Linked DNA regions of Homo sapiens: all the other regions are linked to region 3. Evidence: fine-mapped expression QTL. A gene starts in region 3. Each other region holds a variant in brackets. All regions are shown on one strand. Distances are from middle to middle.

Region 1 (8,120 bases), 120 kb before region 3:
GACCCTAACTTAAAGGAGATTGTGAGTCTGAATATTTAAAGAAATAATTAGGCCAGGTGTGGTGGCTCACGCTTGTAATCCCAGCACTTTGGGAGGCCAAGGCAGGTGGATCACAAGGTCAGGAGCTCAAGACCAGCCTGGCCAAGAAGGTGAAACCCCATCTCTACTAAAAATACAAAAATTAGCCAAGCGTGGTGGCAGGCGCCTGTAATCCCAGCTACTTGGGAGGCTGAGGCAGAGAATTGCTTGAACCTGGGAGGCAGCGATTACAGTGAGCCGAGATTGTGCCACTGTACTCCAGCCTAGGCAACAGAGCGAAACTCTGTCTCAAAAAAAAAAAGAGATAATTAAAATACCACATGCTATGTGCAAAAACAGGAACAGGTGTAAAACAAAAAATAGCACAGCGCAAGAAAATTTAGCTTCTGAGGAGGTACAGATGAGGGTGGAAACAGCAGCAATAATCATGACCATAAGCCCCTTAAGCCAGAAATGGTGTGGATAACATGAGAGAAAACAACCTCTTCGTTTCATTTAAAAAAAAAACTGTTTAAAACCCTAATGGATATTAGATTACAAAGGATAAAAATCAAAATTTGTTTAAAGTAAAAAACCATCCTCCAATAATTCCCAACTAGGTTATCTCACTTCTTATCTGTGTATTCAAACCTATGAGACAACATTAAATCAATATTTTTATTACTTGTACCTCTGTCATATATGTTTATAGATACATTTTATTGAGAAATGCAATTATAAAACATTATCAATCTCCTCGGAATCATTCAGTAAACCCTTATTTACATCTTCCCCAAATTGTCTTTAAATTACAAATTTTATAAAACACAATTTTCAGATCTTCTGATTTTAAAAGAAACCACTATTTTTCTCTCTCACTGTAACTAAATATAATACTAATATTAATAATAGCTCCCATTTAATGAACATTACTATGCTGTGAGGCAGTATGCTAAATATTTACATACAATATTGCTTTTCACCACAACCACCCTATGGTTATTTTAGAGAGGGAAGGAGGCTCAGAGGGGTTAAGTAACTTGACTAAAGTCACTTAAGTGGAAGATAAGAGAAGTAGGAATCTGAAGTCCTATTTTTCCCAACCATAAGTCACTCTAGAAAATGTAAGTCAGGGCCGGGTATGGTGGCTCACGCCTGTAATCCCAGCATGTTGGGAGGCCAAGGTGGGAGGATTTCTTGAGCCCAGTTTGATACCAGCATGGGCAACAAAAGGAGACCACATCTTTACAAAAAATTAAAAAATTAGCCAGGCATGGTGGTGCACGCCTGTAGTCCCAGCTACTTAGAAGGCTGAGGTGGGAGGATCGCTTTGGCCCAGGAGGCTGAGGTTGCAGTAAGGCGTGATTATGCCACTGCACTAAAGCCTGGGCAAAGAGCAAGACCCTATATCGAAAGAAGGAGGGGGGGAGTTAGGGGGAAGGAGGAGGGGAAGGGGAAGAATATAAGAATACAGAGATGCTTAGATTCAAAGCACACTGCAGTTGGCAAGAACAGAAGTGAGGGCTCTCTGGTGATTCTGCTGCATGCAGTCAGGGTGCCCCAGCCCCTCTCTTGAATTTGCAGTGCTGCTGCAAGGGCTAAAGCGCTGCAGTACACAGAACTTGCACTGCCTCTTTTCCCCCATTTCTTATTCCCTTATTGGTCCCCAAATGTCCATTAGCTAAATGCTACCCAGATTTCTTTATTGAAGTTAAATAAGGTGACATCCCATAGATCTTAGCTTCTATGATTCTTAAAGAAACAAACAAAAATGTGTGTCAAGCAATTTACAAATAAGAACAATTACCCTTCATTGTCTTATATTCATTTATGAAAATGCATTGAGGGCCCTTTATGATAGATAGTGTCTTATTCCCAAGAGATTCTGGCCCCTTAGTCACCAGATATTAGTATTTTATAATCAACTGGATGTAATACCCACAGACTTTTCAATAAGTTTAGACATTCTGTCAGCATGACCACTTATCACTGAAAATACATTTGGAAATAACGGCACTTCAACAGCTTCAGGCTGTGCTAAGAAGCAGACACATTAAAGTAAAACTGACTTCACAATGCTTTACATCAGCAAATTATGGAGAAGATCTGCTACATGAAGTGAAATTGAAAAGAATGGCTAATGGACAAAATAACAAAAACATTCAAATCAGACAGGAGCCGAACAGTACACACAGATAAAAAACTGCTGAAAACAAATTTAGTTTGCAATTTAATTCCGTATTTTATAATCAATATTCAGCAAACTATTGTCAATTAAATGACAACACTAAGCTGATAGGATTATCTCATCTACCAAATTTTAGTCTCCTGAAACAGCACTGATGAGGAATATTTAGTGAGTATGTTACAGCACATTGCTTAGACAAAAGAAAAGGAAAGGCATTGCCAATGACCTGCTAATCACAAGGTTCAAACCAAATGTTACACTTTATTTTATAAATATAAAACTACCTTGTTGCATCAACTAAACTTAAGCTAAACACTAAAAAATAGCAAACAAGGGCTTTTCTTCTTTTTAAAAGGGCTGAAAGAAGCATAATCTAAGTTTGGTTCCCTTTCCTTAGAAACAATTCCAAAGGTCACCCAAGGCAATCAGGTTCTATAAATTATCTAAAAATGTGGAGGAGAAGCAATGAAGAAAAGCTCTCAATCTCAGGATAAAGCAAGTGAAAATATAATTTCTAAGTCTCCAAATGAGATATTTCTCTGAACCAAAATAAAAAAACAAATCTACTGCATTTCCATTTCATCTGGCAGTTCCTAGAAAAGGTGAGCAGCTATCATCACTGATATAGAAAAAGGGTCTTCAGATTCTAGAGCATTTCTGCAGTGGTCTGTATCTGAATGTCTGGAACAAGACTCTGTAAACAAAGGCCAGGGGCTGGGTAGAGGAAACATGGGAAGCACTGTGTGACACCATGATTACAAGCAACAACTTTACGGCTAGGCACACCTAAGTGCAAAAACTGCCTTGTTTATGAATAATCTTGAGCAGGTTACCTAACCCTTCTGAACATCAGCTTCTTCACTTACACCATGGGGATAGTAGCCGCTACCCACTCGCATACTGGGAAGATTAGATGACCTTCTGTTTGCAATGTATTCAGCACTGTGCTTGGTGGTGGTTGTTATATAAGGAACAATATATATTTGTTACTTCAGGTGCTTCAGATTTCTTACCATTACTTATTATGGAGAAACTTCATTAATTCCACTCCTAACAACAAAAACCTGAGTCTACACTACTGAGCGGGGAAAGAGTTGTTACATCCCTCCCAAAAGGAGGAATGAATAGATGAACAGATACGTAATAAAGCAAATATAGTAAAATCTTAACTGCAGAATCCTGGAGGTTCTATTCACTACAAAGTTCTTTTCTTTAATGAAAATTTCATAACAAAATGTTAGAAAAAAAATTCAATGCAGAACAGATTATTACAGAAATTTATACTGAACTATCTATAACAGAACAGAAAACCATACATACCTAG[A/G]TCCTCAAGTAAAAACACCTTGAAGAATGCCAGCTGTCATCATTTCTATTGAGACTCAGACTAAGAGATGAAACCACATCACTCCTGGGCACACACACACAAAGATCCCACTACTGTAACCCATATAGCTGAATCAAAATGGTAACAGGTGGATAAAGAGAGATACTTAGATCTAGGAAAGAATTATCTCACAACTCTCCTCCACTATGAAAACAGATCACCAATTTTCAGGTCACTGTTTTTTCAGTCAATTAAAAGACTGAAAAAAGAATGATGTGCTAAATTCTAAGACCACAGTATATGATCAATGAAGATACAGACAATACTGAAAGTAAAAAAGATTTCCCTTCTTTTCTCTTCCCTTTCTTCCTGACTTGTCATTCTATATAGATTCTCATATAGTTGTTTAATCTCAATTAAACAAAATTCCACATGAAATTAAGACCAAGAAGTCAATCATTAATTCCTTGCATGTAAGTCAACTACCCCTGGCAGAAAACTCCCAGAAAATGACACACAAACATTGGTTTCATTTCCCAACATCATGATGTCAGCTCTCCAACTACCATACCACAGAGATCATGGAAGACTTTGGTGAAAAGTACCAGAGGCTCAGGGAGTCCTGTGAGAATACAAGAGATGCAAGTGAAGTTAAAACATGGATGCTAGGCACAAACCATAATCTATTTTTAACAATGCAATTTGAAAGAAAATATGATGTCCCAAAAGCCCTATGTATAGAGAATCTCTTCATGTGTTGGTGATTGGCCAAGAAGCTTAATCTTCATTATATTATTATTATTTTTCATTTAACAGAATAAATCAACAGCCTATGTGATAGGAATAACTTTCGTGCTATTTTTGAGAGTCTGAGTTGTAACAGAAAGAGTTATAAACAATTGGCTTCTAAGAAATGTACAGCCATACGTATTTCTTTAATCTTAATGCCATTTTCACCTCATTTACCAAAGAACAGTGGCTCACACTATTCAGGGCTAAAGGAAATTGTAATCCAGACCTCCTAATATTTCCCTTTCTGTTATCCTACTTAAGGACTCTTATCCAAACTATTTTGCCTCCTGCTGTGGAAATGGCTTATATTCTTAAAGGTTTACTCTTAAGAGGGGAAAAAATGGTACTTAACCATTAACCATAGTAGTAAAATGTCAGTAATGTGATACTGTTAGTATCCACATATGGTCTATTTCACGTAAATTACAGTACAGATGAACCACACTGCAATAATGTGATCCCAGGGTTCTAGGCTAATAGGGCCACCACTGAGCCAGCTATCAGCAGTCACAGAGTTGGGATGAAAGTCTGCATAGTGATAATAACCATCATGGTTTAGTGAGCATCTACTGTGTGCCAAGTACCATGTTAGGCACATTTCTTATGCCATGTCTAATTCCCACACCCATCCTAAAAGATAGATATTATCACCTCCATTTAACAGGTGAGAAAAGGATGGTCAAGAAGGTTAAGTAACCTCATCAAGATCACACACTTCAGCAAACTTCCTTGCCTCCCTGGAAGCTTTCTGGTGGTTCTGTAGAGTTAGATTCTATCCATTTTTAACGCTATAGTAGTAAGATCCTGGACAAGTCATTTACCTCCTAAGCCTCAATTTCTTCATCTATAGAATAAAAAGCAAACTACCTGCACTTAAAGAGTTCCTGTGAGGATAAAGTGAGTTACTGCAGTTTATGTAAGCAGCACAATGCCCTCCACCTAGTACATGATCAATAAGTATCAGCTAAGGAAAGAAGATGACAATTGCTACATTTTTATACCTCTCTGGCAATTAAAAATATCCAAATACTAATCTCTCAGGACATTGCATTGAGATGTTGAGAGGCTTTTGTTTTTCTTTTTATTTTCTAGTAGGCAAGGAAAGAAGAAAAAGATATTGAAACAATTATCTATATAGTCTAGTCATAAATCTTGTCTCTTATCTTGGTCCTCAGTTTTTCTCAGCACTGCTACATTCTTCATATACCTACTGTCCATACACTAAGCAATCTGAACTATGTAGTTATACTCCTAAAGTTAAAAAAAAAGATTAAAACTCTACCACCAACTTCTGACTTCAAGTACAAAATAGCCCAGATTTAAATGTTATAACCACATTAGTCATGTGGGTAATGTATGTCTTTCTATTTACAGAAATACAATCATGTGCAAATAATTTATTTCAACTTCACCTTGGCAGAATAACCCATCAAATTGATATTACCCATCCACCAAGCAAATGGGCAAATGAACTTTTCAGCTGACTCATAATATGGCAATTTTTTTTCTCAGATTAATTTTTTCAAACTAAATTATAAAAGTCATGGTACATCATCCAGGGCATACTTCTCCTGAACAGCTGTTTCCCAGAGTCACTGATTCATTCAACTCAATATTAAGCACCTTCTATGTGCAAGTATTGTGCCAGGTCCTCAAGATACAAATGGTGAGCAAAAACAGACCCTGTGTGTGCTCAAAAGGAGGTGACAGTCAGGTAGAAAAGACAGAAATGTATCAAATAATCACAGGATCACTGGAACCCGTGACAAGTGCTAGAAAGGGGAGGAGGCCTGCAGTGCTGTAGTGCCTAAAATGGGAAGACCTGACTCAGTCAGGGAGGTCCAGTGGCTTTCCCAGTGCTTTCCCTGGAAAGCAACACTCTAGCCAAATACTGTGCTAGACAAGGGGAAAGAGAGGCATGGACAGGTAAAAGGTCAGTGTGGCTGCAGCACAGAGACCAAGGAGAAGCTTGGCATAAGCTACAGCTGGAGAGGTGGGTAGGGGCCAACACAGATCCCCGTGATCCACTGAGGAGTTCCATCTGCACTCTGAGAACGATGTGGAGGAACTGAAGGATGATGACAAGATCTGATCTGTATTTTGACAGCAGTGGGGACAGCAGATGACAGTAATTCACAGTGGAAGAAGATAAACCAGTTAGGAGGCTGCTGCAGGGATCCAGGCAAAAGACTATGGCAGTCTGGGTGAGATTAATGAAGACGAAAATTTTGAATGAAGTTTTACATCCACAGAAGGCAAGTGTTGGAGCCATACCTATTTCAACATATCGACTTGGCAAATCCCTCATTTCACTGGCATGCCGTTCCTTCACTGAGCACACCTGGAAAATAAGTTCGCAGGTTATTTTATTCATTTGATGGAAAATTCTTCATAACATTTTATTCAGTATATGGTATCTTTGTTAAATTAACCTTGTAGCACTGCAGATGGAGTACAATCTACCCTATGACTTAAATGACAGAAATTAATGTAAATGACATATAGCAATCACTATTTATATTCACCAACTTTATTCCTCAATAAAGCCTGATTCACATAAGTTCAGCTTTCCTGGTGAGACTGAACCTGAAGTCAAGTACTAATCCAAGTACAACTTCTGTCAGTGATCAGGGATTTTTCCTTTTTCTTTTACATAGTGTTCTTTTATAGCTGCTACCATTAACTGTAACTATGGTATGGAAAATTCTAAAATATAGAAAAACTCAAAGGGGAAAACAAGCATTAGTCATTGTTCCAGCACAAAGAGAACACCATTAATAATCTTTTTTATGAAAGCTACTTTTATTAACCTAACAATTTAATACAAGTAATTCAATATGTTATTTAAAGATTCTTCTACAACATAATTCTGTAAAGTTGTTATAATACAGTGAGCCCTCCATATCCATGGGTTTTGCATCCATGAATTCTACATTCATGGATTTAACCAAACAAGGATCAGAAATATTCAGGAAAAAAAAAAATTCTACAAAATTCCAAAAAGCAAAACTTGACCTTGCTGTACACCAACTACTTCATTAAGTCTATGCAAATGCAGTGATGTGTAGGCATTGTATCAGGTGTTATAAGTAATCTACAGATGATTTAAAGTATACAGGAGGATGTGCATAGGTTATATGCAAATACCGCATCATTTTATATATGCAAATGTTACATCATTTATATAAGCATCAGAGGAGCCCAGGATCCACAGGGGTCCTGGAACCAATTCCCCACAGGCACTGAGGGATGATTGCCTTTTATTACATGAATGTACTATACTTAATCAACCCCCTTTGGGGGCATATTTTTTTGTTTTTATATCTATTGTAAGCAATAGTGCAATCAACATACTTATATATAAAACTTTAGGACTTTTGTTTACTTAGGATAAATTCCTAGAAGTAGAATTGATACCAATGGGTACATAAACTTTTGTAAGGTTTTGTTTTTTAATATACGTAGTATACTGAGTTGCTGCCCAGCAACACTGCAGCGACTCAGTGAATGCAGAGTGCCCACTTTCCCTCAGGCGGGGCTTGAACCCATGGCTGCAGAGGTAGAAGCCTCCACATAGAAGTGACCGGCTGTCTTCTTCCTTGATTGCTTTTTGCCATTTGTCTCTTGTCCGTTTCATATAACTGCCTGTCCACTTCTCCAATTTTCTTCCCTTCTGGTAGACTTTTGAGCTTATAAGTTATCCACTCTTCTTCCCACACTTACTAGGGAAACTACTAAATCATCTAATGGCACATTCCACAATGCCAAATGGACAACTGTTTTAATGTGCTGATATAA
Region 2 (8,120 bases), 590 kb after region 3:
TGAAAATAAAACAAGGATTTTCCCCCTCAAAGCAGTGACCTGCAATATTAATGACAATGCAATTTCTTTGTCATATATAAAGTAACACTCCTCACACTCCTTGTCTGTTAGGCTTCTTCAACTAAAAACTTTTTGGAAGAAGCAAGTTACAGCTCTTCAGTTGGGCTAATGTCACAGGTCTTCAGGGCCTCTCCTTGTGCAGTGAGATGGGCAGCAGGGATGAATGTGATTCCACAGACTTTAACACATGTAAAAGTCACTCTCTTTATCTCCTTTAAATCAAACTCAATCTGATTCTGAAGCTATCAGTCATCATTAGGAGTGTTTCTTCCTCCCCACAATGATGAAAAGGCCCCAGGAGCTTTGACAGAACAAATGGTTCAGGGACACCCTTCACCCTTCTCATTATTTACTTATTTATTTATTTTATTTATTTATTTTTTGAGACAGAGTCTCCCTCTGTCACCCAGGCTGGAGGGCAGTAGCACAATCTCAGCTCACTGCAACCTCCACCTCCCGGGTTCAAGCGATTCTCCTACCTCAGTCTCCTGAGTAGCTGGGACCAAAGGCACACACCACCGTTCCTGGCTAATTTTTGTGTTTTTAGTAGACATGGGGTTTCACCATGTTGGCCAGGCTGGTCTCGAACTCCTGACCTCAAGCAATCTACCTGCCTCGGCCTCCCAAAGTGCTGGGATTACAGGCATGAGCCACTGCACCCGGCCACACACCTTCTCTTCTTCTATCTATTCCAGTCACCACTGATGGTCTCGTGGTCCAAGCCTGCAGTCTCTTGAAGGCACGTGGTCCTACTATTTTACTCAGGCACAGAAAACCTTGTCAACCTTGGAGTTCTGGCACCTAGATTCAGACTTCTCTCTCCTCTCCACTTCCACACACCCACCAACTGCTCTAAAAGACACACATGTCTCTCTCCTGTTTCTCCTCCTCCAGTCTCCTCAATAAGCTCATCATTGCAAAAACTAACAGAAGAAAAAGAAGTTGTTTTCCAACACCAAGTTATCTGGCCTTTTTGCAAGTGAGCACAAATTCCTTGTTTGCTTTTTGGAATTTGGGAGGGGGAAATTAAAGGAAGACGAAACCCACTTAATATATTAATAATTCATATATCTACAGACACACCCTGAAAGGCGAGTTCTGCAGCATCTCCATCAAAGCTTCCCAGGCTGTCCCTGCCTCTGCCCACTGAGACACAGGCCTCATCTCCTGGGAGAAAAGGGCATTTTAATCTACTTGCTGATGTCCTCTGGGCCTGCACCATGGCTGCTAACAGTGTCAAACATGCTGAATGTGTGGAACCAGAGGGGGGTCACGACATCAGCTGTTTGTATTCATTTCGCTGGGAGAGAATTTGCCAAGGTGAAGCTCACCTCCTTCTCAGAGCCCTTTCCCTGCAAATACCAAAGACAAAGACAGAAATCACACAGCTAACAACCAGGTGGCAGAAACAGTCCCCTCAGGAGAGGACTTACGGGACTGAGCCTCATTACTCATGGTGACTTCATTAGAATCCTTCACTCGGAGTAAATGAAGATGGCAGGAGATTGTCTCAAAACCAGCATTTAAAAAAGAAAAGCTTCAGCATTACTGCAGAGGCACTGGTACTCCAGAGAACTCCTTGTTATCCCAGCTTAACAGTTGGCCCTCTGGACTATAGTCTGTGTTGACAATATTCCATGTTCAGGGGGGAAAACGAACCTTACAGAAGAAAACAGATGCCAACAACCAAAGATGGCATATCAGCCAACATAAGGCATGTAATTTCAAGACTTCAATTTGCCAGACCAGCCTGAGCCTTTAGGCACCCGAATTAGTGGCCCCAGGGTGCAATTACAGTAGCATGAATCTTCGCTCTTTAAAAATGTGTGAATTATTGTGAAATGAAATAAATAAAGTAAATGACTAAACAGTTCTATCAGAAGGTTTTCTCACAGTTGCTTGTAAATGGGAAGAAGAAAGTATCGAAGTCACATTAAACACCAATATGTTCTAGTAACACATAATAATCATGTTTATTCTTTTGCATGGTTACTGATACGCTAGGATTATCATAAGCCAAAAATAAAACTTCTGAACAAATGGAAAGAAAACTGTCAATATCCAGTCCCCTCTAAACATGAAAAGATCAGTTTCAACTGGAATTAAGACCACATCTCTGAAACCTTTCCCAAGTAAATAGAGATTGAAGAAGTTGGCGTTATAATTGACTACACCATAACATTTCCCCTTTCCCACAAGGATCTTAAATATTAATGCTCAGTTGCTGAAAATCTCTCTCTCTTATTTCTATTTTTGAACATCACAATCTCATAGACTAGAAACACACCCAGCCTTTGCACAGCAGAACATAGGGACTGGAATGCCAGATAAGAAATCCAGAAACTTGGCTCCTTTGGCCAAGTCTTCCATGAGCTCAGAATTTTAGGATCTTCTACAAAGTACAAGACTTTCCTAAATCATAGACAATTGGAAAGATTTTCAGATCATGTTCTCAGAACTCCTCGTATTCTCTTTTGCACACACATTGAAGAACACACACACGTGTGTGTGTGTGTGTACACACAAGTTGGGGATGTGGTAATTTATGCGTTGAGGAAGAAGCATTTGAAGTAAGTGCTGTGGTATCTCCAAATGTGTGAATGGTAAAATGATTACTGAAAATGATGATTAGGTCCCCTCTGACCTTTTCAACTCTAAGGCAACTTGATGCCACAATGTTTGACTGATGAATAATGTTTCATGGCAGAGCTTAAATAACAGTGACTGTGCATATCCTTTGTTTATACTCAGATAAACCTGAACCAAACCAGCCTTGAAACTCTGTTGAAAGGGAAAGAAGATATTCGAGATGCAGCTGCAACTAATTCAAAAGAGTCTCCTTAGGCTGGGTTCAGTGGCTCACACCTGTTATAGCGCACTTTTGGAGGCTGAGGTGGGTGGATCACCTGAGGTCAGGAGTTCAAGACCAGCCTGGCCAACATGGTGAAATCCTGTCTCTACTAAAATACAAAAATTAGCTGTGCATGATGGCAGACACCTGTAATCCCAGCTACTTGGGAGGCTGAGGCAGGAGAATCACTTGAACCTGGGAGGCAGAGGTTGCAGTGAGCCAAGATTGCGCCATTGCACTCCAGCCTGGGTGACAGAGCAAAACTCTGTCTCAGAAAAAAAAAAAAAAAAAGAGTCTCCTTAAACATTCTGAAAGCATAGAGCTCTTGGTTATTCTTCTCGCCAAACTATACAGTGAAAATGTGGAAGTTTTAGGACTGGAAGATGAAAAGATGGTTTCTAGAGAAAGGTCTTACCCACTCTTAAGTAATATCCATATGTACCCTCTGAAAAATCACTGACTTATTTGAATCACTTGTATTCAATCTTTTGAATGACCAACTTCTGCCCAAATAACAGAATCCACAGGGAGGCAGTAAAACTTAGTAAGGCAGCCATAATCCCCCAGGTGGGCCATTTTCTGGTCTGGAATGTTTTGTCCTTAGCATTGTTTAGTGAGGGGTTAAAGAGATGTAACCCCTAGAGGGTTAGCACAGGCAGAATTGCAGACAGCCCAGAGCTCCATGAGGAGAACCTGCTCTCCTGCCACCTTTTCTTTGTCCTCTGGCTTCCCAGTCACACTCAAAAGGCTGGGGGTCATGGAGGCCACTAGAGAGCTG[T/G]GAGGGGAGCTGCCACAGAGTCCACTCTAGGTGCACAAATCACTATATACACACACACACACACGCTCTCTCTCTCTCTCTCTCTCTCTCTCTCTCCTTCTGAGATGCTTTCTCGGCTATGGAAAGGATAGCCATGCCGTTGGCGTCAGAGCTCAGTTCAACCCCGGCTATATCGCTCCCGCCTCCACTTTGGCTCACACAGTTCTACTTTTCCTAATTAACTTGACTCAATGTCCTTTCCCTTCTTTCCACCTCAACAGCACTTACCAGGCACACAGACAAACATTGTTCCTTGACAATATTTTTTGGAGGTCTTTGCTGTAAGTTGAAGCATGAAGCATCTCAGGAGATATAAGATTTGACATCAGACTGAACCTGAATCAAGCTCTGATTGGGAGACCCTTGGAAAAATTACTTAAACTTGCTCAGCTTAACTTACTGGCCCATTAGCCATCTGAGAGAGAGGCCTTTTTCCAAAGATGGTCTTTAGCACTGCTTCATAACAGGTGCTCAATGCATCTTAACCCTCCCCCTGCACTCTGGACCCTTCTCCATGTGCCTACTCCTTGTCTTTCCAACTATAGTGTGAGCAACTCCAATGGAGTGACCACTTCTGTTACCAGGCGCTTCTAAGTGAGCACGGCATGGTTTGATGTTAAAGATAAATGGGTCCAGATCCCAGCTGCCATTCTCTGCCCTTCCTGTGAAAGTTGGAACGAGTTATTTGACCTCTTGAAGTACCAAATTCCTTATCAACTGGGGATGAAATAATCATCATTCAAAGGGTTGATGTGAAAAATCCATGACATGAGTACCTAGCACATTAAGGGCACTGAGTAGGTGGCCCATAAAAGAATCATCTTTTTCCTAATAAATGTTCTTTCATTTTATAAACTGTATCTAAATAATGTTTCTGGGCCAGGTGTGGTGGCTCACACCAGTAATCTCAGCACTTTTGGAGTCTGAGGTGAGTGGATCACTTGAGGTCAGGAGTTCAAGACCAGCCTGATCAACATGGTAAAACCCCATCCACTAAAAATACAAAAGTTAGCCAGGCATGGTCATGGGCGCCTGTAGTCTCAGCTACTCAGGAGGCTGAGGCATGAGAATCGCTTGAACCTGGGAGGTGGAGGTTGCAGTGAGCCAAGACTGTGCCACTGCATTCCAGCCTCGGCAACAGAGTGAGACTCTGTCTCAAAAATGAAAGAGAGAGAGAGAGAGAGAGAGAGAGAGAGAGGGAAAGAAAGAAAGGAAGAGAAAAGAAAAGAAAAGAGAAAAGAAAGGAAGGAAGGAAAGAAGGAAAGGAAGGAAGGAGAGAGAAAGAAAGAAAGAAAGAAAGAAAGAAAGAAAGAAAGAAAGAAAGAAAGAAAGAAAGAAAGGAAGGAAGGAAGGAAGGAAGGAAGGAAGGAAGGAAGGAAAAGAAAAAGTTAATTTCTGGCAGCCCCTCAATACCAAGAAGGATGAAATTCACTTTTGAGTTTGTGATTAAAAGTTCTCCCAAAATATGATATCTCCCCATTCCTCGATCATTGCAGGTCCCTGGCCCAGAGAAGAGCAACTGGACGAAGCATACAGCAGTCTAAACCCAATTCATTGAATCAAAAGACAGCTATTTTTAGTATTTATCTTTCACTCCAATTTCTCCCTTTCTTTTCTCCCCAGAGTCATCTTTACGGATGTAGCAAGAAGTCAACCTTAAGAAAAAGTCCATTCACTCATTCACTGTTCTAAGTGTTGAAAGGGATATACAGATGAATTACAAAAGCAAGAAAAGAAGATTGGCTGGATTATGAAATTCCATAAAGAAAAGCTTGAGTAAATCTCACCCCCAAACTACATTTCCTCTCCAAAGCCAGACCAATGAAACTTTGGATGATAATAAGATTTCAGCCTTGAAGTTCATTTAAGGCATTTTTTAAAAGAATTAGTTTGTGAGCTTTTCTACTTTGTCTTATAAAAGACAGTGAACTTTATGTGTGACTTTCCATCAGAGTTTGCAGATGTAGCTCATGGGAGTTAATTACTTTTTCTCTTCAATTTCACCTAGCAAGATAAAACAGAGCTGCCCAAGAGTTTTCCTATAGCAGGGTGACTGGTCAATACCTTGCTACTTGCTCTGTCAATGCCATGAAAATATTGTTTAATAATTTAGGAACAACCATGTAATTTTCTTCCCTAGCAAGAGCAAATTAGGCACTTACTAAATAATTGACAAAAATACTTAATTCTAGGGATTTCTTGAGAATGTGCTATTATTCAAAAAGAATTTAAAATAAAATTTTCTTTCACCTATTCAACATGTTACTTTCATTTTCATGCCTGATCATATCTTGAAAGCTATATCCGAGTTTGTCCCCCCAGTCCTGATTTCCTTACACCAAGGTGGTCCACAAGTGAACATGTCAAGAATGCGTGTGCTGTCCTTGGTCAAGACCACTTGGAAAGGTGGCTGGGACTTAAGTGTGTTAGACAGACCCCCTCTCCTCCAGGCCTGTCCCCACCAGGGATGCAAACAGGTGCACCAAGAAGTTTGAGTCTTTAGAGTTTTAATCTCAAATCTCAAATGATGAGACATTCTCATCAGTGGTACTCAGACTTGGAACCCTTTGCCCTGGCCATCTGCCAAAGTGGCTGCTTACTCATCATCAGGCTCTTGGGCAGAGGTCTATCTGTTCAGTCAGGCATTCTAAATATCCCATTTGCGGACCTTCAGACAGTTTACTTGACACTTAACTACCAAAATGCCCTGGGTACACTTACGATGCCTAGGGCAGCATATTAACCCATGACTCTTTACAAGTTAAAAGGTTGGGGAACGAGTAGTACCAGGTCTTTCTGCCCCTATTTCAACAAGCAGCCATTTTCTAGAATGTTCTCTTCTCACTGTATTCTCCCAAAAGATCAAGTCCAATAATAATACTTTATTCAAATAAGAGCCACCTCTCTCTCTCTCTCTCTCTCTCTCTCTCTCTCTCTCTCCCTCTCTCTCTCTCTCTCCCCCTCTCCCTGTCCCTCCCTCCCTCTCTTTCCCCCCCAGTATTTCCCCCATTGACCTACGATTGGGGGAGAGCCTCAGTTTGCCTCCCCAGCACCATCTATACCATCTTCCTTCTGCCTGGCTCATGAACACTGCAGTCTCCCTAGGAGATAACATTTCTTCAGTTCTCATTATGTGCTGAGTACTGTCTAGCCCCACTGGCAGCAGAGTGAGGGGCTGTTCCAGAATCCTTAGTTATAGAGACCCAAAAGTAATTCTGTATTATTCTAGGGACTACCTTTATGGAGACTGATACACAAAACCAGAATTTCAGCAGAGGACGGTGTTCTAACAAGGCCTACCTCTTGGATTGTGAAATCCAGGCTACTTTTTACATAGGGCATCATGGTCATATATACACATTACTGCAATCAAAATAATTAAAGAGTACTTTCGTCTTTTCCTGAATCTCTCAAGGAACATAAACACACCCAATAGCACTTCTTTAAAAGTGTTGTTCTTTTCCCCTCTTATTGTCACACATCTTGTGGCCCTTCAGAAGTGTTTCCTCTACAAACCTACAAACCTCCCTTTCCTAATTCCATGCCCCAGGTGTTCTTGGCATCTGCCCTGTCCAGGCAGTTTTGGTTTTTGTTCCCCTCCCCTTTTCCTTCCCCGTCTCCAATCCACCTACCCTATCACTAAAGCCTGCGAACATGGTTGACAATAAAAGCCTAGAGTGATAAATACAAAACTTGTGTTCTAGTGAAGGAACACAGACAATAAATACATAAGCAGTAAACCAGAATTATCAGATAGAATATGTTTTCTGATAGACATGGTGCCACAAAGAAAACAGAAGATGGTGAAACAAGAGAGCTGGGAGTGGGGGGACAAGGCCACTGCAGATTAGAAACAGGAAAGACATTTCTGAGGACGGGATTTGAAAGCTGACATCTACGTGACAGGAGAAGGCTAGTCTTGCAAATATCTGGGAGAAAAGTTCCCTAGGAAAAAGGAACAGCTAGGGTAATGTGCTTAAAGTAGAAATAAGCTTAGCATGATTATACTCACATAGCAGAAGAGGAGAGAGATGCCTGAAACAATTTGGTAGAACTGCCTTCTTCTTTTTTTTAGTCTTCTAAAGAGAACCTGGTTTAATATGATTAAATAAAAAAGGTGTTCAGACCTTTAGGTGAACAATTAGGACAGTCTATAATATAAGATATATTACTGGGTTTTTCCAGTTGAATGCTCTGCATGAAATGATAGGCTGGGAGCAGTGGCTCACACCTGTAATCTCAGCACTTTGGGAGACGAGGTGGGTGGATCACTTGAGGTCAGGAGTTCGAGACCAGCCTGACCTACATGGTGAAACCCTGCCTCTACTAAAAATACAAAAATATTAACCAAATGTGGTGGTGCACGCCTGTAGTCCCAGCTACTATGGAGGC
Region 3 (5,000 bases):
AATCTATAAAGGATAAGATTAGGTACAATTACTTACTTTCTTTTAAAAAAAAGAACTGAACAATTTGTGAATGTGTCTTTCAGCCATTTACAACAGACTGCTGGGTTTTTTTTTGTTTGTTTTTCGTTTTTTTTTTAAACAGGGTCTTGCTCTGTTGCCCAGACTGAAGTGCAGTGGCACGATCATGGCTCACTGCTGCCCCGACCCTCTTGACTCAAGCAATCCTCCCACCTCAGCCTCCCGAGTAGCTGGGACTACACACCACCATGCCTGGCTAATTTTTGTAATTTTTGTAGAGATAGGGTTTTGCTATGTTGCCCAGGCTCGTCTCGAACTCCTGGGCTCAAACAATCGCCCCACCTTGGCCTCCCAAAGTGCTGGGATTACAGGTATGGGCCATTGTGCCTGGTCCACGACTAGTCTTTTTAAGATACTGACACCACTGGAGAGGAGAATGCCCACTCCAACTACATATTGGCTGTTAAAGCATCAAAGTGGAATGGTGGCTTGAGGGAAAATCATTAAAATGGAAAGGGCTAATTCTACTTCATAAAGTAAAAAAACTATTTAGATTTAGGTTCTTACATATATTTTAAAAAGGTAGGGTATTCTAGTGAAAAGTCATGAGCTATGGAGACAGAGGACTGGAGATTTATTATATTATAGATATAAGCCTGAGCACGTTACTCAAGTTGCCTGAATTTCAATTTGTTTATCAGTAAAAGTCAATCATTTAACACAAATTTATTAAGTAACAAGCAATATTCTAGGTATTGGACATACAGCAGTGAACAAATCCTTGTCAGGATGTTCCAAGCTCTGTGGTAAGAGGTACACAGAAATATACAGGGAAAAAAAAAAAAACAAATTTTATAATACAGTATGTCAAACGGTGATGCACATTATAGGGAAAAATAATGCAGGAAGGTTTCAAAGCATGGTCAGGGAAGGTCGCAATGAAAAAGAACACTTGGACAAAGACATGAAGGAAATGAGGAAGCCTGTAAATATCAGGGTTCCTCAAAAAGGAACAGCATGAGCAAAGAGGCCCTGAGATAGGAACCTGCCTGGCTTTTTGAAGACTAAGAGAGCCAGTACAGCTGATGCAGAGTCACAGAAGGGAAGGAGAGTAGTGGGAAAAATGAGGTCAAGAAAAGGTGGCTAAGGGCAGCTGGGTCAAGGTCCTGTGGGACAACCAGGCTACCGTAATGGCTGTGGCTTTTCCTCTGAATAAGATTAGAAGCCCCTGGAAAGTCTAGAATATCAGAGGTGTTTCACCCATGTATGAGAGTAAACATTTACCTCATAGAATTCTTTTGGGAAGACCAAATGCAATATGGAAGGGTTTTTAAAACTAGAAAATAATGTACAAATGTGAAACATTATTATATCCCTAATTTTGTATGTGTCATTTTTATATCAGACAACTTTGTTAAATTCTTCTTCTGCACTAAACAGTGGTAAATATTTCATAGGTTTTTTTCAATGGAAGAAAAAACAATGGTTTTTCTAGGAGCAACTCTCTCCATTTCTATTCCACTATATCTAAGAACATATGAAACTCAGTTTTTTGCTTTCAAATCAAACCATAAAACAAACATTTCAACATGAAATAAAGATGCACAATGTGAAAAACAATCTCACCCTTATTCAAAGGAGCAATGGCAGTCATGAAATGATATGTTCTTAATGAGTGTTTTCCTTTGAACTGCTAGAATGGAAATAGGAGTCTCTAGTGTTAGATAAGAGACTTTGTTATCTTGTTATCACAAGGACCAGCCAAACCAAATTTCTACCTAGTCAAACGTCTCAATTATTGGCATATATAAAATATATACAGAACAAATTTTCACTATGAAGTAAAAACAAATGAAGTATGTTGAAAATAGTAAAAATTATTGAACTAGGTAAATGACTCTTATGATACTAAACAGCCCATCATCAAGTCACTGTTTAGAGACAATGACTGCAACTGACAGCCCTGTTAACTTGTGAAGAAAAACAGTATCCAACTGAAATAACACTGGAAATGGAAACTTAAGTTATCTCCCCCAAGTTCTAGCCTCTTTTTTGGTCTGCTTCTCTTTTTTGTCTTTTTTATTTTACTTCGTCATTTCATAAAATGTGTGATTACCACTACTGCTATATGAAAATAATTCATATTCCCATCACCAATTTCTACCCTAAACTTCAGTGCCACGTTGCCAGTTGTTGACTGGATACTACCAGCAACAAATAATCCCATTTAATTTTTACTAAGCCCAACAGTTCTAAGTACTCTAACTTTGTGTATAAACTCCTCTCTCCATCTTAAACCACCCTCTGAGGACGGCCTTATTATTACCCCCATCTCACACTGGAAAGTTAAATAAGTAGCTCAAAGTAGCACATTGGGTAAGAAAAGGAACCAGCACTTGGACCCCAGGCATTTTTGCTCCAGAACGGATGCATTTAATCCCTGCTGCACCGCAACAGTGCTCCAGCTCTGTACCTAACTCCAATAGATACAAAACAAAACTCATCGTCTACTCTCTCCTAGTTCTTATTGTCCTACTTCAAGTGGAAAGCAACTTAAATTTCAGTCACCCGGCCTCTCTTCCTCCTCCCACAGGCAGTCAGTCCCTGAGGTAGCCGGGCCTGCCTTCATGCCAAAATTTCCCTGGGCAAAGGCCACAGGGATGGGGCCCGAGGAAAGGCAGCCCGAACGCGGGGGTGTGTCAGAGCGCTTTCCCTAGGTGCCCTCCCGGGGCTGGCATCCTCTCTGCTCCCCGAAACCAACTTTCGCCATCCCACCCCGCCCTGCCGCGGACCTGCCTTGCGCTATTCCAGCAGCTCCGCACCTCCACCCACTCCACTCCACCCTCCCCAAACAGCCCACCCTAGTCTCTATATCCCTGTGCCCTCAACTACCACCTGCACCCTTTACCTGCTCCTCTGCTTCCGCCATGGCGCCACGGGAGAGTCACCTGACAGACCCGGAAATAAGAGGAAACCACACACTTGGCCCAGGGCCTTCTGGGAAATGTAGTTTTAGCTTCATCTGAGCCTGGAAATCTCTTCTAGGGGACGGACCTGCTAGGGTTCATTTCTGCTGCCAATTCTCCAAACTCAATGGAATTCTGCTTTGAAGGATGTGAACATAACCATTGCTAATACTATAGCTTATTTTATTGTTGTTCTTGTTTCTCTAGTTATTCTAGTGTTTATTAAGCACTTACTATGTCATGCCCTGGGTTTATAGCTTTGCATAAATTATCTCATTTAATCCTCACAGCAATTCCTACTATCATCCCCATTTATAGGGGAGAATACCGTAGCTCAGAGGTCATGCAGCTAGTAAGAGGCAGAACTAGTAATAGAATTCAGCCCTGCCTGATGCCAAAGTCTCTGTGATTGCCAAATGCTGCTTACTCTAAAAGTGTTCTTGTCCTTTTTTCTCTCTCTTTTTTAAGTATATTCAGTGAATATAAAGCAGTCTTTGCAGTGGAGAGTCAGAGAAAATTTATACGCCAACAAATAATATCATTATTTTTGCTTGCTACTTTGTCTTCTCCTGTCATATGAACATTGATTTAAAAAAAATCTCTGTTGTTTAATAAATTAATTGTTAAACTTTTGTTGAGGATATTCAATAGGTAAATGTTCAAGTGAAGACACAATATGAAGTTGTCCTTGGTCAAAATCTGCACAACCACTGTATTACTTCCAGCCTTCAGAATGACTGATTCCTTCTCCATGTTTCTGAACATTATGAATTCTGTTTCTTAACCCTCAGGAATCTGCAGCACCTTGTCCAAAGACAGACATTTTACAATTTCCATTCACTGGAGTAGCTGGTGACCAGCAGAGGGCATTGCAAATGGCAGCATGTGGTGATTGCCTCAGTACCTTTTTTGACTCCCTGTGCCTCATTGACTCTGACCCAGTAGGAAGTCATGGACTCAGTACTCTGTCTGTAGCTTGCTCAACCCATGATTCCTCAATGGCCCAGAAGCCAAGGTGACATCATCTCTGAGACACCTGTCTTCTCCCCAGGGCCTAAACAGCCTTACCTCCATCTTCTTCCTCCAAGCCTTGCTGGGGTTCCTCTTCCAGTGGGCTAATCACTCAGCCGACAGGATAGACCACCCTGAGGCATTTAAATGTCTATAAGCAGCCAGGTGCAGTGGCTTTCACCTGTAATCCCAGCACTTTGGGAGGCCAAGGCAGTCAGATTTCATGAGCTCAAGAGTTTGAGACCATCCTGGACAACATGGCAAAACCCTGTCTCTACAAAAAATACCAAAAATTAGCCGGGCATAATGGTGTGCGCCTGTAGTTCCAGCTACTCAGGAGGCTGAGGTGGGGGTTAAGGCTGCAGTGAGCATTGATGGTGCCACTGCACTCCAGCCTGGGCAACAGAGTGAGACCCTATCTGAAAAAAAAGAAAAAAGAAAAAAGAAATCCATAAGCAAGCACCCAATGCCCTAAGTATAAACCTAGGGCAAGTATAAACCTAACCCAAGAGTTTCTAAAATCTCTTGCAAAGCAGCCCAGGGCCAAACATTGCTCATGATGAACTCCAGATCCCAGAAAAACTTTAATACAGACCAAAGAGACTGTGGAAGCCCTCAGTCGAGTATCCACGGGAAAGAGAAATAAAATGAGCTCTTCCACTTTTCTGACTTTCCTCACAAACTCCAATTTTCTCTTTTCTGTTATGAGTGACAGCCACCCATAAACCTCTAGGACTACAGCCTCTCCAACTGGGCAATCTCCTCTTCTATGCTGAATGGATGAGATTGGGATGAAGAAGGAAAATAAGGGATTATTACCACTGTCTTAACCACAAGGTCATTTTTGTTTTATGGTTCCATTTTATTTTGGTGAGAAGTCAAGCAGCCCAAGCAAGCAAAGCTGAAGGCCATCCACTCTGGGCCTTCCTGGCCTTTCTACTTTTCTGGAATGAGAATGTTTATTCTCTTTCTCAAGAAGGGTGTTATGGGTCTTATTAAAGATAT
Region 4 (8,120 bases), 88 kb before region 3:
ATCCTCCCACCTTGGCCTCCCAAAATGTTGGAATCATAGGAGTGAGCCACCATTATGCCCAGTCCAATCTCTTATTTTTTAAATAGCACTGAGATAATAAAATGTGCCATGAACATGTCAGCGAAGAGTAGCCATAACTGCTCTAAAAGTTTATCAAGGCCCGCAAGAGATTTTCTACAAGGAAAAAAAAAATCGGAAAAAAAAAATCAGTAGTTTAAGTGTGCTTTTGTTATTTTTAAATGCTGCCTCTTTTTTGTGGGAGGGGCAATGTTTCAAAGCTCTAGATGTAACAGCTCTCTTATTTTCTTGTCCTATATCTACTTCAAAGAAATGTAGCAAGAGGCTGGGCGCAGTGGCTCACGCCTGTCATCCCAGGGCTTTGGGAGGCCGAGGAGAGCAGATCACCTGAGGTCAAGAGTTCAAGACCAGCCAGGCCATGTCTTTAGTAGAGACATGGCAAAACCCCAACTCTACTAAAAATACAAAAATTAGCCAGGCACGATAGTGGGCATCCGTAATCCCAGCTACTCGTGAGGCTGATGCAGGAGAACCACTTGAACCCAGGAGGCGGAGGCTGCAGTGAGCCAAGATCACGCCACTGCACTCCATCCTGGGCGACAGAGCAAGACTCCGTCTCAACAAAAAAAGCAATGTAGTGAGAAACACTGAAGCCACAACTCCCCCAAGAGATGATGATCATCAGATTTCATTACATTTGTCTTTCTCGAATTTCTCCTAATGAATAGCCAGACATAAAAACATTAAGGATAAATTACAGAGTAAGCACACAACACCCCTCAAGGCTACATATCAAGGTAGAGACACACAGCACTTACCTTCTTCCCTCCGGTCACAAACTGCTTGCAACTGGATCTCACGAAATGTGGGTGCACAGCAATAATCTACAAGAGAAACAGAACCCAACTCTGGTTTAGGAGTCATGGCCAATGCACAGAATGAAAACCCCTGACACAGTTCAAGCAGCATGATCTAAAAATTATCCTGAAACCTTGGTAGGAAGTAATATATTCAAATCATATTTTACAACAACTGATGACATCTGAGTTTTCTTCTTACGTGAAAAGATTTCTTCTCTGAAGCCAGGTCAAAGCTCAAAGAGTAGGATAAGTCAGTTCTAGTTTCTGGCTGAGGACCCCTATAAGTGGATGTCACCTGTATAGAGGCAGCAAGGGAGGTCAAGGGAGGTTGGTCAAGGTAGCAAGATGTCACAACTGTTTCTAACTGGATACAATTTACAGAAAACAAAACAAAAAAAAAAAAACAGAAAGAAGCCAACTAACTCCTTGTCCAAGATGACTCTCAATGATAGACGGCACCAAGTGGCAACGCAGCCTCCCAGACGTTTAGCCCACTTACACCAAGACCCCATCAATGGAGAGAGAACAGAGCTACAGGCCCAAAGAGCTAACCGTTCAGGACTTAGCTTTTTAGATACAACCTGTTCCCCTGATTCTCATCTGCTTCCCACTCATCCAATCTTTCTCCAGCCCCTTGCTACCCAGGTTTCTCTTAAGGTTGCTCCACCACCCTTGTTACTGTTTCCTTCATTTGCAAGGGCTTTATGATTACATAACATCATTAACATCTTGGGGAGGGGATGAAAACAAAAGCCCTCGTGGCTCCACTCAGTGCACCTCCATCTTTGGAGCTCATCTGTTGTGGCTGTAAGCTTGCATAGACTCCACCTCCTTCTCTCTTTATCCCCAAACCACCCATGAAATCACCAACTTAACTAATTTTGTGTTTTTCTAATTTAACATAGAGAATTTTTTTTAGGTAAACACACACACAAAATCTCACACAATTTTACTTCTATATACCTTCAATTAAACATATTTTATACTTGTATTAATTGACACATTTCCCTCCTACAATGGAATAGATTCCTCTTCCTACAATGTCATTTTTAAGGATTAGCATATGATCCTTCATTGCTCTAAACACTCCTACCTCCCAGGTTAGCCCTTCTTCCCTTCAACACTTTCCTAATCCATCCTCAATACCAGTAGTGAAGGATTCACACATTCTATTGTTTCACATTCTTAAACTCTCCCCCTAGCTCTCTCGTAATGCATAACTGTAGATCAGGGACTGATTCCAAACATCTCCTCTGCTCCTCAAACACATTATGTTACCCTTTTCTTCCCTTCAGATGTAAGAAAATAAAGCCATCAGGGTCATTGCCCACAAGTGCTCCTCCTTCACTGTCTAACTTGCAATAGCTAGGCTCAGTCCACTTCCTTCATGCCTGTTTCACAGGCAGAGGGTCTAGGACTCTTCCAAGATTATCTTCCCTACCTAAGCTGTTGATCTCATTGCTTAGTGCTGCTCCAAGAAGCATTCTCTTTATTTTTAATCTTTTCCTCTTCACTGGTTTTTGCCATGAACCAAAACATGGTCGGCAAAAACCTTCCCAGGACACGGCCCCTCTCTCTACCAGATGATCTCTCTTCTTTATTACTAAATTTCTTTAAAGAAGAGTCTCTGCTGATTGTTTCTACTTCCTCATCTCCAATTTATTCCTTCATGTATAGTGACCCTCCTGCTCTGAAAAGAGTCCTCAGCAAGGTCACCAGTAACTTCAAAATCACCACATAGAATGCCCTTGTTTCAGTCCTTCCCCCTATTTAATCTCCACACTGCATTCGACACTGCTGACCACTTCCTCCTTGTAGAAACCCTCTCTCCCCTGGCTTCTCTGACACCACTCTTCGGGATTCCTTACAGTCCCTCCAACTGCTTCTTCTTAGACTCCTTTGCTGTTTTTTCTTCCACAGCCTGAGTATTCAAGTTAGAGTGTTCCAGAATTTCACCATCAGTCTTCTCTTCTCACTCTACAGCTCTAAATTGGATAATATCTTTAAAAATAGCTTCACCTTATTCAACTATGGTTATCACGTTTGTGTTTAAGGGCCAATCTCCATCCTGAGGCCCATATTCATGTTTCTAAAACCTCCGTAACGTCCCCACCTGATGTACTACACTTATCTAAACTCAGGACCAAACTAGCCTAGCCATGTCCTTACTCAAACATACCCTACTGCAACTGATGGCATCCCACACCCCATCCCCAAAGCGAGAACCTGAACTGACCCTGAGCTCTTCCGTCTTTCATCACCCTCATCCAAGCCATCACTAAGGCTCGCTAAGTCTATTTAGCACAGGCTGTCCAAATAAATTTCATCCTTTCCATCTTGAACACTCACTATCATTCTTTTCATTGAGATCCTGTAATGCCCTGCCTAGAGTATTATATTAGGCTTCTAAATTGTCTTTTGTCCCCAATCACTCTCCTGTTTAAATCACCCTCCACTCTGGCAAATTCAACTTTTTAAAACATACATCAGACCCTATCTCTCCTTTACCTGCTGGTCAATAAATGTTTGAATAAACAGGTGAAAAAAATAAATGACCTCTTCCTTCAACAACTATAATAGACACCTCAACTACCATAATTTTTATCTAAAACTAGTCCTCTTGACTCTTATCTGTCCTTCAATCAATACTGTATACAGTCACCATATTAATTTTCTTAAAGCTTAGTTCAGTTTATTTACTTTGTTCTTAAATATTTAGTAATTTCTAGTTATCTACCAAATGGAGTCCAAATTCTTCAGCCTGAATGTAAAGCCAGCCCAATCTTCCTTCACATTCTCTTGTGAAATCAGTCTTTTATGTACCAAATAAATTGGACAATTTGCCATTTCCTGAACACAAGGTGAACTTTCTAGCCTCTCCATTTCTATTATGTTGTTCTTCCACATGGAAAGCCAGCTTCTCTCATCAGTCCTTCTCCATTTATTAAAGCCAAGTTAAACATCACTCCACCAATGAAGCCATCACTGACAAGAACAGCTAAAAGTGATTCCTTTCAGCTTTGGAACGCTTAATATTATTCCTACCTCTTTGAGTCTTTTACCACAGATCGTGTGTGTGTGTGCGTGCGTGTGTGTGTGTATGTGTGTGTGAGTGATCTCACTCACTATAATAAAATACCCCTGAAGACAGACTGAGATCACAGTCACAAAATACACATTCTGTCTTCTTTCACAGCATCTAAATAGTATCCAGTACATCTGAAGTGTTGAACAGACACTTACTGACAAAATTAATACAGAAGTGGTAATGTTCAAATTACTGTAATCCATATTGCCTTACTTGAGAAAACCCTTAGAAAAAGTAAAACTTGCTGAATACTTACTTTAATGGGACAGTCAAAAGTCTCGTGAAATTCTTCTCCAGAATACAGTCCAAATACCTGCACCTACAAAGAAAATGGATTGTATCAGCTCACCATGACAGCAATAGAGAAGGCTACTGAGTCAGTATGA[A/G]CACATACTATCAATAAGAAAAGTAGAATATTTAATAATTTTAAGGCCCCGTGACCTCTATTAAATATCTAATGAAAACAATCCCATCAGCCACGTACGGTGGCTCACGCCTGTAATCCCAGCACTTTGAGAGGCAGAGGCCGAGGTGGGTGGATCACCTAAGGTCAGGAGTTGAAGACCACCCTGACCAATATGGTGAAACCCCATCTCTACTAAAAATATGAAAATTAGCCAGGCATGGTGGCGTGCATCTGTAGTCCCAGCTACTCAGGAGGATGATAGGAGAATTGCTTGAACCTGGGAGGCAGAGGTTGCAGAGAGCCGAGATTGCGCCACTGCACTCCAGCATGGGTGACAGAGTGAGACTCCGTCTCAAAAAAAAAAAAAAAGAAAAAGAAAAAGAAAAAAGAAAAAAGAAAATCCCATCAGGTTGAGGGTACTTTGCTGCAATTAAGCTTTCATAAGCATTCCATGGATAGAGTTCCCTTCAATCACCACAAATTGTATTAAATGCATGCCATTAAAACAATGAAACAGATTTGAACAAGTTATTACTATTCTTTTATAAACTTCCATAAGCTGTCCCTAAAGGAACTATTTTTTCATCCCTTAAAGGAAAGGGGAGATTTTTTTTTAGTGTCTCTCATATATATAAAATAAACCAACCATGTAGATCAGTGTGGTAAGAGATTAGGTGAACCACACTTCACTCACAACTTATGCTAAATCTACTGAGAATACAGAAATGAAAGATTTAAGTTCCTGCTTATCAGTGTCTCCCTTAAAGTTGTTCCAGGCTACTTTATTCATACTTAGTATATTTTCTGAGTGCTTTACTTAACAACAACAAAACAAAAACAAAACTGAAATATAAAACACATGCTATAAAAAATACAAATCATAAATTTATAGTTTGATGAATTTTTATGACACGAACATATCCGTGTAACCATCACTCTGATCAAGAAATAGAAGCCAATAAGCTCCTTTGTTTCCCTTTCCAGTAAATAACACCCTCCAACTAATCACTACCCTCAAAGCTACTGGCATGGATAAGTTGTGCTGGTGTTAGAATTTTGTAAGTAAGGAATCATATTCTATTTCACTGATTTATTTCATTCATTATTTAACATTTTCTTTGTGAGATTTAGCCACACTGTTGGATATAGTAGAGGTTGCTTCTTTGCCACTGCTGGGTATTATTTCATGTATGAATATATCACAATTCACATATCCATCTTCCATTGATGACCACTTAGGTTGTTTCCAGATTGGGGCTATCATGAATACTGCTGCTAAGAACATGCTTTGCAAATCTTTTGGTGGACTTATATACATATTCATGAAGGGTGTATACCTTGGAATGGAATTGCTGAGTCATAGGTTATGTGCATGTTCACATTTAATAGGCAAACCATTTCACAAAGTGGTTTCAAATTAATTATGCTCTCACCATGAGAAAGTTTGAATGTTTGTGTTCCCCCAAATTCATTACGTTGAAACCTAACCTCCAAAGTGATGGTTATTTATACTCTCAGCATAAGAATTCCATGAGATCTCAAATGCTTGGAGCTAACAAATAGTACTAGAGCCAATGAGAACTATTTCCCAACATTGGAATGTGTTCACTGTCTTTCTAGTCTCTAGTATAGTGGTATTATTCTTCTTTAACTTTTGTAGGAATTCACTGGTGAAGCCATCTAGGTCTCATGGCTTTGCTATGGTCTGAATGTATGTGTTCTCCCCAAATTCACTGTGTTGAAACCTAACCTCCAAGGTGATGGTATTAAGAAGTAGGGCCTTTAGTGAGTGATTAAATTATGAAGGTGGAGCCCTCATAGGTGAGATTGGTGCCCTTATAAGAAAGCTTGGGGTAACTAGCTATAGCTTGAGGTGACTAGCTAGTCCTTTTGCTCTTCTGCCTTCTGCCACACAGGGACACATAATTCATCCCTTCTGCCATGTGAAGTTACAATAACAAGGCGCCATCTTGGAAGCAAGGAGAGCAGCCCTCACCAGATGCCAAATGCTGGCACCTTGAAATCAGACTTCCCAGCCTTCAGAACTGTGAGAAATAAATTTCTGTTATTTATAAACTACCCAGTCTAAGGTATTTTGTTATGGCAACACAAATGGACTAAGATAGTTTCTTTGTGAAAAGGTTTCCAATTATAAATTCTATTTGAAAAATAAATATAGGACTACTTAAACTTTCAATTTCTTCTTATTTTAATCTTGGTAAGTTCTGAGTGGTTCATTCTTTCAAGCCCCAAGCAGGAAATTCACTTATGTTATAATTTTGGGAAATAGATTCATGCATTAAAAGTTAAAGTTTTGGGGACCATCCACTCATTTTGTAACTACTGTTTTTATATACTTGTGCCAAGTTTGTTATTTGGGTTCTACAAACAGGAGATAATATAATGTAAAACAGAAGGAATTTCATTTTTCCTGAGGCTGGCCTTGAAATGTATTCTTCACATGGCAAATACACATATGTCCCCCCCATCACCTGCTGCTCATTGTTCAGAGGGTATAAAGTCATTACTTTTATGGAAATATATAGGCATAGGATAATATAACAAACATCTTATAAAATAATGGCTAAAAAGCACAAAAGGAAAGCACTGCATTCAGGGTTTCACTTTACCTGGGGAAGTTTAACTTGATGGACCCCAACAAATCTAAGAAAATCAGGTGAAAAGAAGGAGGTTCCTGAATCATGGGAATCTTAATGGAGTGAATCAACAAATGGCCACCTTGATGAAGCTACCTCAGTATGAATACCTGCTCAACTAGCAAGCTGAACTTCTCCTAACTTAATCTATTTCTTTTCAGTACAATAAGGTCATGTACTGCATGGTCTTGTGCTAAATCTCATACTACTGCTACTAACTTACATCCCTAAATGTGTCAACATGCTTTACCTTAGTGGTTCTCAAACACACCTGTACAGTTAAAATTCCTGGAAACTAATGGCCAAATCCCACCCTGAACAAACAAACTCAAACTTTCTGGTGAGGCGAAATGATATTTTTGAAGTCTGCACAATTGGCAATGTTTTGCTGTTCCTCATTTGGTCCTCATAGCAAAACTGCTAGGTCTAAGAGCAAATACCATTATGCCTGTTGAACTGATGATTCTATAGAAAAATGACTTGCCTAAGGTCATAAAAATCATAAGCAGAAGAGTTAGAACCAGAACCCGGATTTTCTAAATCCTATTCTTCTACATGCTATCTTTATATAGGATAAACTGAAATTTGCAAAAAAGAAAGATATCTTTTTACCTAAAGTGTAAGAAGAGTAGAATAGAACAACAACAAAAAAACATTCAAAAGCCTTAAATATGTGCCAAACTGAAAAGAACATGAATATCAGACTTTGAATTAAGGACACTCTATGACAGAAATTGAAATTAAATGAAGCTGATTATTCATTCAAATGGATAAACTTCCTTCTGCCTTATAGATGGAATAAAGAAATTTTAGAAAAAAAGTGATTTCTATTATGCAGAAAAGTATATGAGATGTAAACAAATGATGCATAAGCCTGTAGAAAAAGACTGACAGATCAGTAAATGTGTGGATAAATACTGGGACTGTGGATGTAATGCTGAAAATTAAATTAGGAATTGCTGAGGATAAATGTCCCTTCAAAAATTAAAAATGCATATTGAAGGCATAAGAGTATAGTGATAAAGAGGAATAAACAAAAAAGAGAACAAAATCAAACAAGTTCATAGTAAACAGGCACCGATACACATCAC

Alleles and levels. Positions count from the first base shown, and alleles are read on the strand shown. Sizes are in standard deviations (SD) of each study's normalised expression. Not every link is listed here.
As copies of A replace G in region 4, the expression in hypothalamus of the gene that starts at base 2,964 in region 3 goes up (small effect, 0.35 SD a copy in GTEx).

What was found. PIP is the estimated chance that this variant, and not a neighbour inherited with it, causes the effect. A credible set is the group of variants that fine-mapping cannot tell apart.
Region 1: its variant is the best candidate, but not a certain one, in a credible set for the expression of VPS41 in pancreas (GTEx, PIP 0.72).
Region 2: its variant is the best candidate, but not a certain one, in a credible set for the expression of VPS41 in neutrophils (BLUEPRINT, PIP 0.70).
Region 4: its variant is the best candidate, but not a certain one, in a credible set for the expression of VPS41 in hypothalamus (GTEx, PIP 0.78).

The regions. Positions count from the first base shown.
Region 1 is chr7:38,783,205-38,791,324 of GRCh38, forward strand. It overlaps VPS41 (VPS41 subunit of HOPS complex), which reads right to left. Exons shown (of 29, transcript NM_014396.4): 10 at 6,597-6,663. Among named protein-coding and RNA genes, the nearest start is that of VPS41, 120 kb to the right of the region's middle. The variant A/G (reference allele first, on the strand shown) is at 3,531.
Region 2 is chr7:39,498,796-39,506,915 of GRCh38, forward strand. No RefSeq gene overlaps it. Among named protein-coding and RNA genes, the nearest start is that of YAE1-DT, 63 kb to the right of the region's middle. The variant T/G (reference allele first, on the strand shown) is at 3,690.
Region 3 is chr7:38,906,228-38,911,227 of GRCh38, forward strand. VPS41 (VPS41 subunit of HOPS complex) reads right to left here and starts at 2,964. Exons shown (of 29, transcript NM_014396.4): 1 at 2,927-2,964. The coding sequence starts at 2,947. RefSeq lists an enhancer at 2,972-3,071.
Region 4 is chr7:38,816,981-38,825,100 of GRCh38, forward strand. VPS41 (VPS41 subunit of HOPS complex) reads right to left here. Exons shown (of 29, transcript NM_014396.4): 6 at 4,223-4,285; 7 at 837-902. Among named protein-coding and RNA genes, the nearest start is that of VPS41, 88 kb to the right of the region's middle. The variant A/G (reference allele first, on the strand shown) is at 4,353.